Regions from separate parts of the Homo sapiens genome. Here region 2 is linked to region 1. The links come from fine-mapping of genetic effects on gene expression. A gene starts in region 1. The other region holds a variant in brackets. All regions are shown on one strand. Distances are between the middles of the regions. Region 1 holds the start of C10orf95-AS1 (C10orf95 antisense RNA 1). Region 2 overlaps C10orf95-AS1 (C10orf95 antisense RNA 1).

The links. PIP is the estimated chance that this variant, and not a neighbour inherited with it, causes the effect.
Region 2: its variant is fine-mapped to the expression of C10orf95-AS1 in whole blood (TOPMed, PIP 0.98).

The regions. Positions count from the first base shown.
Region 1 is chr10:102,447,304-102,451,686 of GRCh38, forward strand. It overlaps C10orf95-AS1 (C10orf95 antisense RNA 1), which reads left to right and starts at 2,514. Exons shown (of 3, transcript NR_038938.1): 1 at 2,514-2,719; 2 at 2,884-3,027. It overlaps C10orf95 (chromosome 10 open reading frame 95), which reads right to left and starts at 4,240. Exons shown (of 2, transcript NM_001363580.1): 1 at 4,083-4,240; 2 at 2,534-3,844. The coding sequence starts at 3,790. The coding sequence ends at 3,149. RefSeq lists silencers at 3,075-3,154, 3,195-3,684 and an enhancer at 4,207-4,383.
Region 2 is chr10:102,454,089-102,458,471 of GRCh38, forward strand. C10orf95-AS1 (C10orf95 antisense RNA 1) reads left to right here. Exons shown (of 3, transcript NR_038938.1): 3 at 1,249-2,205. Among named protein-coding and RNA genes, the nearest start is that of C10orf95, 4.7 kb to the left of the region's middle. RefSeq lists enhancers at 293-881, 882-1,469, 1,470-2,059, 2,060-2,647, 2,648-3,236. The variant C/G (reference allele first, on the strand shown) is at 1,772.

The DNA of each region.
Region 1 (4,383 bases):
AATATGGTGAAACCCCATCTCTACTAAAAAAAAAAAAAATACAGGCTGGGCGTGGTGGCTCATGCCTGTAATCCCAGCACTTTGGGAGGCTGAGGTGGGTGGATCACGGGGTCAGGAGTTCAAGACCAGCCTGGCCAAGATGGTGAAACCCTGTCCATACTAAAAATACAAAAAAATTTGCCAGGCATGGTGGCGTGCTCCTGTAATCCCAGCTACTTGGGAGGCTGAGGCAGAGAATCCCAGGAGGCAGAGGTTGCAGTGAGTCAAGATCATGCCACTGCACTCCAGCCTGGGAGACAGAGCCAGACTCCACCTCAAAAAAAGAAAAAAAAAATTAGCCGGGTGTGGTGGCGCATGCCTATAGTCCCACCTGCTTGGGAGGCTGAGGCAGGAGAATCGCTGGAACCCAGGAGGCAGAGGTTGCAGTGAGCCAAGATTGTGCCACTGCACTCCAGCCTGGGTGACAGACTGAGACTCCATCTCAAAACGAACAAACAAACAAACAAACACTAACATTTTAGCACTTAACACATGCCAGGCACCGTGGTAAATGCTTTCTGTGCACTGTAGAAACACAGATGTCATGGCATCTTCTCAATAACCTCATGAGATAGGTTTTTGTATCATCATCCCCATTTGGGATGGGGAAACTGTTTCATGGACATTAATTTGCCCAAGGTCACACAGCAGACCCATCACACTATGCCACCTCACCTTCTTGTGTTTTATAATTTTTTACAAAGGAAAAATAAGGTGAAACTAGGGATAACAGAGTTCAGGATGCAGGTTTTATATAAAAGACACTAAGCAGGCCGGGCACGGTGGCCATGCCTGTGATCCCAGCACTTAATGAGGCCAAGGCGGGCAGATCACTTGAGGCCAGGAGTTTGACACCAGCCTGGCCATCATGGGAAAACCCCATCTCTACTAAAAATACAAAAATTAGCTGGGCGTAGTGGCACACACCTATAATCCCAGCTACTTGGAAGGCTGAGGCAGGAGAAGCGCTTGAACCAGGAGGTGGAGGTTGCAGCTGCAGTGAGCTGAGATCATGCCACTACACTGCAGCCTGGACAACAGAGTGAGACTCTGTTTCAAAAAAAAAAAAAAAAAAAGACACAAAGCAAATTTGGCTCTGAGCTCCTTGGAAACCAGGACCAAAAGAAAAATATGATCAGTAATGAGATTCGTAGCGCTTAAAAGACAAAAGCAAACCACTGATCAGGAGAAACACCTTTTCCAAGGGCTGAGGTTTGAGACAACTTCTCCAAGAAGCTCACAAATACAGCAGTGCCCAATCAGCTGGCCTACAGCTTCAATAACTCACCTGTGTATACCCAGGTAACTATTGGTCAGTTACAAATGGAAGTTCAGTAAAAGAAATTTCTACAGCTGGGCCTCAAATCTGGCTAGATCCTAGTTAAAATTGGCTATGTGGCCTAACATTCCAGAAAACTCCTAGAATATTGCAAACCTCAGCCTATTAAGAATTAACGATTATTAGCAAGAATTGGGAGACAAGAAGATACATTCATCTTTTTTTTTTTTTTTTTTTTTTGAGACGGAGTCTCGCTCTGTCGCCCAGGCTGGAGTGCAGTGGGGCCATCTCGGCTCACTGCAAACTCCGCCTCCCGGGTTCACGCCATTCTCCTGCCTCAGCCTCCCGAGTAGCTGGGACTACAGGCGCCCACCACCTCGCCCGGCTAATTCTTTGTATTTTTAGTAGAGACGGGGTTTCACCGTGTTATCCAGGATGGTCTGGATCTCCTGACCTCGTGATCCGCCCACCTTGGCCTCCCAAAGTGCTGGGATTACAGGCATGAGCCACCGCGCCGGGCGGAGACATTCATCTTAACTTCCAATTAGGCCGGGCCGAGACATTCATCTTAACTTCCAATTAGGCTGGGTTACTTTTACGCCTCTTTTACTGATGAAGAAACTGAGAGTCAGAAAGCCTTAAGTTACACAGGTAGAAAATGTCAGAGCCAGCCCTAAACTCAGGTCTCAGACATCCCTCTCCTAGTGAAGCCTTCCACACTTCAAAAATAGAGCTTATGCCCTCAGCATCTCGGAGGGTGGTGGGCCAAAGGACCAAGGAGAGTTAGAAGGTGCTGGCCTGCACACTTGGAGGGAGATGGTGAAGAGGGCAGCTGGGCCCAGCGATCAGACACATGCTTTCTCCAGAGGGCCAGTTCAACTTCACGCCCCTCCACCCTACCTTCCTGTACCCCAGGGTGGGCGGTAAGACTCCCATTAAACAGATAAACAGATGGAGAAACACCACCCCAAAACATAACAATGATCTCGCAGTGTATACTTGACTTCGCTCATTTATTTATTGTTTTTTTTTTTGTTTGTTTTTGTTTTTGAGACAGGGTTTCAGTCACCCAGGCTGGAGTGCAGTGGTGCGTTCGCGGCTCCTTGCAGCCCCGCCCTCTCGGGCTCAGGTGATCCTCCCATCTCCGCCTCCCGAGTAGGTGGGACTACAGTAGTGTATCAGCACACCCGGCTATTTTTTTTTTTTTTTTTTTTTGTAGAGACAGGGTTTCGCCATGTTGCCTAGGCTGGTCTCCAACCTGGTCTCCTGGGCTCAAGCGATCCGCCCGCCTCGGCCTCCCACAGTGCTGGGATTCCAGGCGTGAGCTACCGCGCCCGGCCTATTTACTTTTCTTACTAAGCTGGGGATCACCGTCGCCCTCGGCTTGGCAGGAAGGCGGGGGTAGGGGAGCGGTGGGAAAGGGGGGTGGGCGACGACTCTGATAGAGGGAAAAGAGGAAGGGAAAGTTGGGGCTTACTGCAGGGCAAGCTCCTTAGGAGAAGGTGGGGAGGAGGAAGGAGGGAGGTCCAGGCCCTTCTTCCATCCCACGTCCTCCACTTCCCAAGGTGCAAGAAGAAAAGAGGTACAGAACACCCAGAGGTGCCCTCGATTCCGTCTTGCACTTGCCCTTCTCCCACCGTCCAGCAATAAAGCGAGAGAAACAAGTGCAGGAAACTGGCCGGCAGTCATGGGAGAAGCCAAAAAGACAGGTGAGCAGCGCGTCCGCCTCCCGCGCACAGGTGAGGGCTCACTTCTGCCTGTCGGCGGCGGCACACACAGGAAAGAGCCAAGCGCGTGCACGCGGGCCCGCCCCTAGGCCTTGCGGCGGCTTCAGCTCAGGCCCTTGCTCTTCCTGGGGCGGCCGCGCTCCGCGGCTTCCCGGGCTGGGCTGCTGTCGCCGCTGTCGGGCCGGCGCCGCACGCGCCACTCCACGCGGTGGTCGGGCTCGAGCACGCGCGGCGTCGCCTGCAGCAGGAACTGGCCGCGGCGCTGGGTGACGCGCACGTCGGCGCGGGGGTAGGTGCCGTACGCGCGCCGCAGCTCCCGGCGCACGAAGTCCGGTAGCTGCAGAGGGGGGCCCCGCGCGCGCTCCACGCGGCCCCAGCGCAGCTCGGTTTGCAGGCTCCCGCCCTCCGGCCACGGCGCCCAGCTCTCGGCCACCGCCGCGGGCGCCTGCAGCGACAGTCCCGAGATGCCGGCGGCGGCGCAGGGCCGGCGCAGGGTCGTGGCGTAGGCCGGAGGGCAGGCCCACCAGGGCGGCGCGGCCTCGGGTGGCGCGGCGGGGCCGTAGAAGCGGTGGTATTCCCGTGGGGCCGCCCACTCGCCCGCATGCAGGCTCCCGGGCCGGCTGCGGAAGCTGTGGGCCTGGACTGGGGGTAGCAGCAGAGGGGCGGCCAGGTAGGTGCAGGTGAGCAGCTGCGGCGGCGGCGGCCAGACGCCCTGTTTGGGCGGCGGCCAGCTGTACACATACATGGTCGGCCCCCCAGGCGGCTGCTGTTCTTACTGGGGGCTCCTGCGGATCCAGACCTGCGGCGGAGGAAGGGATATGTAGACAGACTTTCTACTTAACCGCCTCCTGTCCCTGTGGGCCGGTTCCCCGGGACGCCGGTTCATGGCTTTGGGGGAATTCATCCCAAATCGAACATTCAGCTCCCCGCCTAGCCTCTTGTCCCAAGGTCGGGCAGAGCCTCAGGCTCCCAGCAGACAATAAGGAGCCTTTTCAAGCCCTCCGCCGGGATGCTCTTCCCAGTGACTCCCCACTCACTTGTCTCCTTCAGCCTTGGGGAGCCGGCGGGATCCAGAGCGGGGCTCCTCTCCGCACTTTGTAGCTGCGTTGCTCCGCTCCATGCCCTGCCTCAGCCACTCCTCCTGGTTACCAGGCAAAAGGAAACACCTTGAGCTGGCCAGGAGCTACCAGCGTCTGTCTACACCTGGGTGAGCCGTACTGGTCGTAGTGGCCCCACCCTACAAGGATGCCCTTCCTACAGTATTACTGATGGCTGTCTAATCCGGTTAGCTCCCAGTCACTACACCCCAGCCTCCCAGCGCCTGCAGGTGGATTGGGT
Region 2 (4,383 bases), 6.8 kb after region 1:
TTGAACTCCAGACCTCGGGTGATTCACCCACCTCGGCCTCCCAAAGTGCTGGGATTACAGGCATGAGCCACTGTGCCTGGCCTGCAATTTTTTTTCATGACCACAAAGTTACCTCTTCCTGCTTGACCAAGAAACAGCACATCAGCAGTTTATATTGTGGGAACAAGGAATATTGGGCAAAAAGTGAGTGGTTAGCACGTGCAAGCAAGCATCGGCCTGATCAGAATTTTTTTTCTTTTTTTTTTTCTTTTTGACAAGGTCTCATTCTGTCACCCAGGCTGGAGTGTGAAGGGGTGGGTTGCCCCTCCACACCTGTGGGTTTTTCTCGTTAGGTGGAACGAGAGACTTGGAAAAGAAAGAGACACAGAGACAAAGTATAGAGAAAGAAAAAAGGGGGCCCATGGGACCGGCGTTCAGCACACGGAGGATCCCCCCAGCCTCTGAGTTCCCTTAGTATTTATTGATCATTATTGGGTGTTTCTCGGAGAGGGGGATGTGGCAGGGTCATAGGATAATAGTGGAGAGAAGGTCAGCAGGTAAACAGTGAACAAAGGTCTCTGCATCATAAGGTAAAGAATTAAGTGCTGTGCTTTAGATATGTATACACATAAACATCCCAATGCCTTGAAGAGCAGTATTGCTGCCCGCATGTCCCACCTCCAGCCCTAAGGCGGTTTTCCCCTATCTCAGCAGATGGAATATACAATCGGGTTTTACACCGAGACGTTCCATTGCCCAGGGATGAGCAGGAGACAGATGCCTTCCTCTTGTCTGAACTGCAACGAGGCATTCCTTCCTCTTTTACTAATCCTCCTCAGCACAGACCCTTTACGGGTGTCGGGCTGGGGGACGGTCAGGTCTTTCCCTTCCCACGAGGCCAAATCTCAGGCTATCACATAGGGAGAAACCTTGGACAATACCTGGCTTTCCTAGGCAGAGGTCCCTGCGGCCTTCCGCAGTGTTTTTTGTCCCTGGGTACTTGAGATTAGGGAGTGGTGATGACTCTTAACAAGCATGCTGCCTTCAAGCATTTGTTTAACAAAGCACACCTTGCACAGCCCTTAAGCCATTTAACCCTGAGTTGACACAGCACATGTCTCAGGGAGCACAGGGTTGGGGGTAGGGTTACAGATTAACAGCATCTTAAGGCAGAAGAATTTTTCTTACAGAACAAAATGGAGTCTCCTATGTCTACTTTTTTCTACACAGACACAGTAACAATCTGATCTCTCTTTCTTTTCCCCACAGGAGTTCAGTGGCATGACCAGGGCTCACTGCAACCTTGATCTGGGCTCAAGTGATCCTCCTACCTCAGCTTCCTGAGTAGCTAGGACCACAGGTGTGCACCAACCACACCCGACTAATTTTTGTAGAGATGAGATCCCACTATGTTACCCAGGCTGGTCTTGAACTCCTGGGCTCAGGTGATCATCCTGCCTTGGCTTCCCAAAGTACTGGGATTATAGGCTTGAGCCACCGTGCCTGGCCTGTGATCAGAATTCTCATTTTTTTAGTCACTAAAAATGCTGGGGGGCACTCCATTCTCCATTATGTGATTAGTTCACATTGCATGCTTGTATCAAAACATCATATATACCCCACAAATATATACAAAAAACTTTAAAATTTTAAGTATTAATTGCTCAGGAAAAAATTAAAATGCTGGGGTGCTGAAATCTCAAGGGCCCCATTACAAAACTCCTTAGGAACCTCGCCCTCTCTCTGCTGTAAGGACTGGTTCCAGAATGAGAGAATTTAAAAGACATTCCCC[C/G]CCCAAAATGTTCATAATGTCACCCCGGAAACCTGCGAATATGTTATATTACATGACCAGGGAGAAGTAAGGTTGCAGATGGCAGTAAGGTTGCTAATGGGCTGACCTTAAGATAAGGAGATGATCCTGGATTATCTGGGTGGACCCAATGTAATCACAAGGGTCCTTAACTGTGGAATAGTGAGGTGGCTGAGTCAGAGGCAGAGTGATGCAATGACTGAAAGACTTAACCAGCCATCACCGGCTTTGAATACGGAAGACGGTCATGAGCCAGGGAATGCAGGCAGGCTCTGGGAGCTGAAAAAAGCAAGAAAATGGATTCTCCCCTGGAGCCTCCAGAAGGGATGCGGTCCTGCCAACCCCTTGTCAGTGAGCCATTTCAGATTTCTGACTTCCAGGACTGTAAGAAAATAAACTTGTCTTGTTTTCAGCCACCAAGTTTGTGGTGATTTGTTACAACATCAGTAGGAAACTAATACACCTCCCTGCTCCTGTTTATAACTTCGTCCCTGTCCTAAAATCCCAGCACCTGGGAGTATTCACGGCTATCCATGGACTGACCACACCCCAGCCTGGAGTTCAGTAGTGGACCCATGGCACTGGCCAGGTTTTCCATCTCTTCTGGGTGGAGAGTGGGGAGCAAGCAAGACGAAGCTCAAGTGGAGCCTGGGAAGGAAATTTTCAGGCAAAATGAGAAAAATAATGGCCAAGCTGTGAGTTTCTCAGTATTTGTTCACCCTGATTCCAGTGCCAGTCCCCAGTATTTTGAAGTCCCACACCTTATCTATTCTCAGGAAAGTAGTTCTGGTGGAGTTGAATCTACTGTATCCTTAGGTTTGGGTGATTTAGGGCTAAGCCTTTCAGCACAGCCATCCCTCTGGCCATAGTGATTGACTTGGGCTAGCCCTTGACATGATATGGGCCAATGCAAGTCAAGCCTAGGACTTTATTTTCTTGTTGGGTGGAGGGGATTTTCTGCTTTTCCCAGGACAGAAATCAGAAAGGGTCCTGGACTTAACTTACACAGGCCAGTAAATTCCTTCTTTATTTAAGCTAGTTTAAATGGTCTATTGCTTCCACCAATGATACACCCCAGGATATTTCCTAACCGTCCCCCCCCCCGCCAGCACTTTGTTATGAATTATGAAAAAAAATTTTTTTTTAGACGAGTCTCTTTCACCCAGGCTGGAGAGCAGTGGTGTGGTCATAGCTGGGCTCAAGCAATCCTCCCACCTTAGCCTCCTGAGTAGTTGGAACTACAGGTGTGCCTCACCACATTCCACATAATTTTTAAAAATTTTTTATTTTATTACTACTTTTTGAGACAGAGTCTCACTCTGTTGCCCAGGCTGGAGTGCAGTGGCGCGATCTCGGCTCACTGCAACCCCCCGGGTTCAAGCGATTCCCCTGCCTCAGCCTCCCGAGTTGCTGGGACTATAGGCGTGTGCCACCGTGCTCGGCTAATTTTTTGTATTTTAGTAGAGACGGGATTTCACCATGTTGGCCAGGATGGTCTCGATATCCTGACCTTGTGATCCGTCCACCTTGGCCTCCTAAAGTGCTGGGATTACAGTTGTGAGCCACTGCACCCGGCCTGATTTTTTTATTTTTTGAAATTTTTTATAGAGATGGAGTCTCACTATGTTGCCCAGGCTGGTCTCCACCTCCTGGGCTCAAGCGATCCTCATGCCTCAGACTCCCAAGGTGCTAGGATTACAGATGTGAGCCACTGCATCTGGCCATGAAAATTTTCAGTATATAGCAACCTGAGAAGCTTTTGCTCAGGGAAGCTTGCGATCGGAAACTCACTTGAGGGCAAAATGGAGGACAGATTAGAGAGCGTGGGGGTGGAAGCTAGTCATGGAGGAGGTTCTCGTGTTAGCTTATGAAAGCTGAGAACCAAACAGGAGCAAGGGATGGAAAAGACAGATGGGAGTAGGATTCACCTGGACTTGATCCAAGATGGTGGTTTTGATGAAGTGCGTAGGATGGAGGGTGGATGCACATGTTTCCGCCTTGGCCACCTCAATGGACAGTTAAGGCAGTCCTGGAGGTAGAAAATGCTGGAGGGAGATTGGAAGTTTAAGGAATGGTGAATTCGGATGGGCCATTCTGGATATTCTCTTCAGGTTGGACATGGGAGGTGTGGAAGTAGTCATGAAGGAAAAGGTACTAGGTGAAATTACCGTAACAGCTGCCACCCTGGGCTTGTCTCCATCTGGTCCCTATCACACTATTGACATCTTGGCTGCCAGCTTGTTTGGACCCCACTCAACGCCTCTTGCAGGTAGCTATCTTGTTTTTTTTATTTTTTGAGACAGAGTCTTGCTCTGTCAACAGGCTGGAGTGCAGTGGCGCGATCTTGGCTCACTGCAACCTCCGCCTCCCGGGTTCAAGCGATTCTCCTGCCTCAGCCTCCTAAGTAGCTGGGATTACAGGCATCCATCACCGGGCCTGGCTAATTTTTTGTGTGTTTTTTAGTAGAGATGGGGTTTCACCATATTGGCCAGACTGGTTTCAAACTCCTTACCTCAGGTGATCCGCCCACCTCGGCCTCCCAAAGTTCTGGGATTACAGGCGTGAGCCACCGCACCTGGCCAGCAATCTTGTTT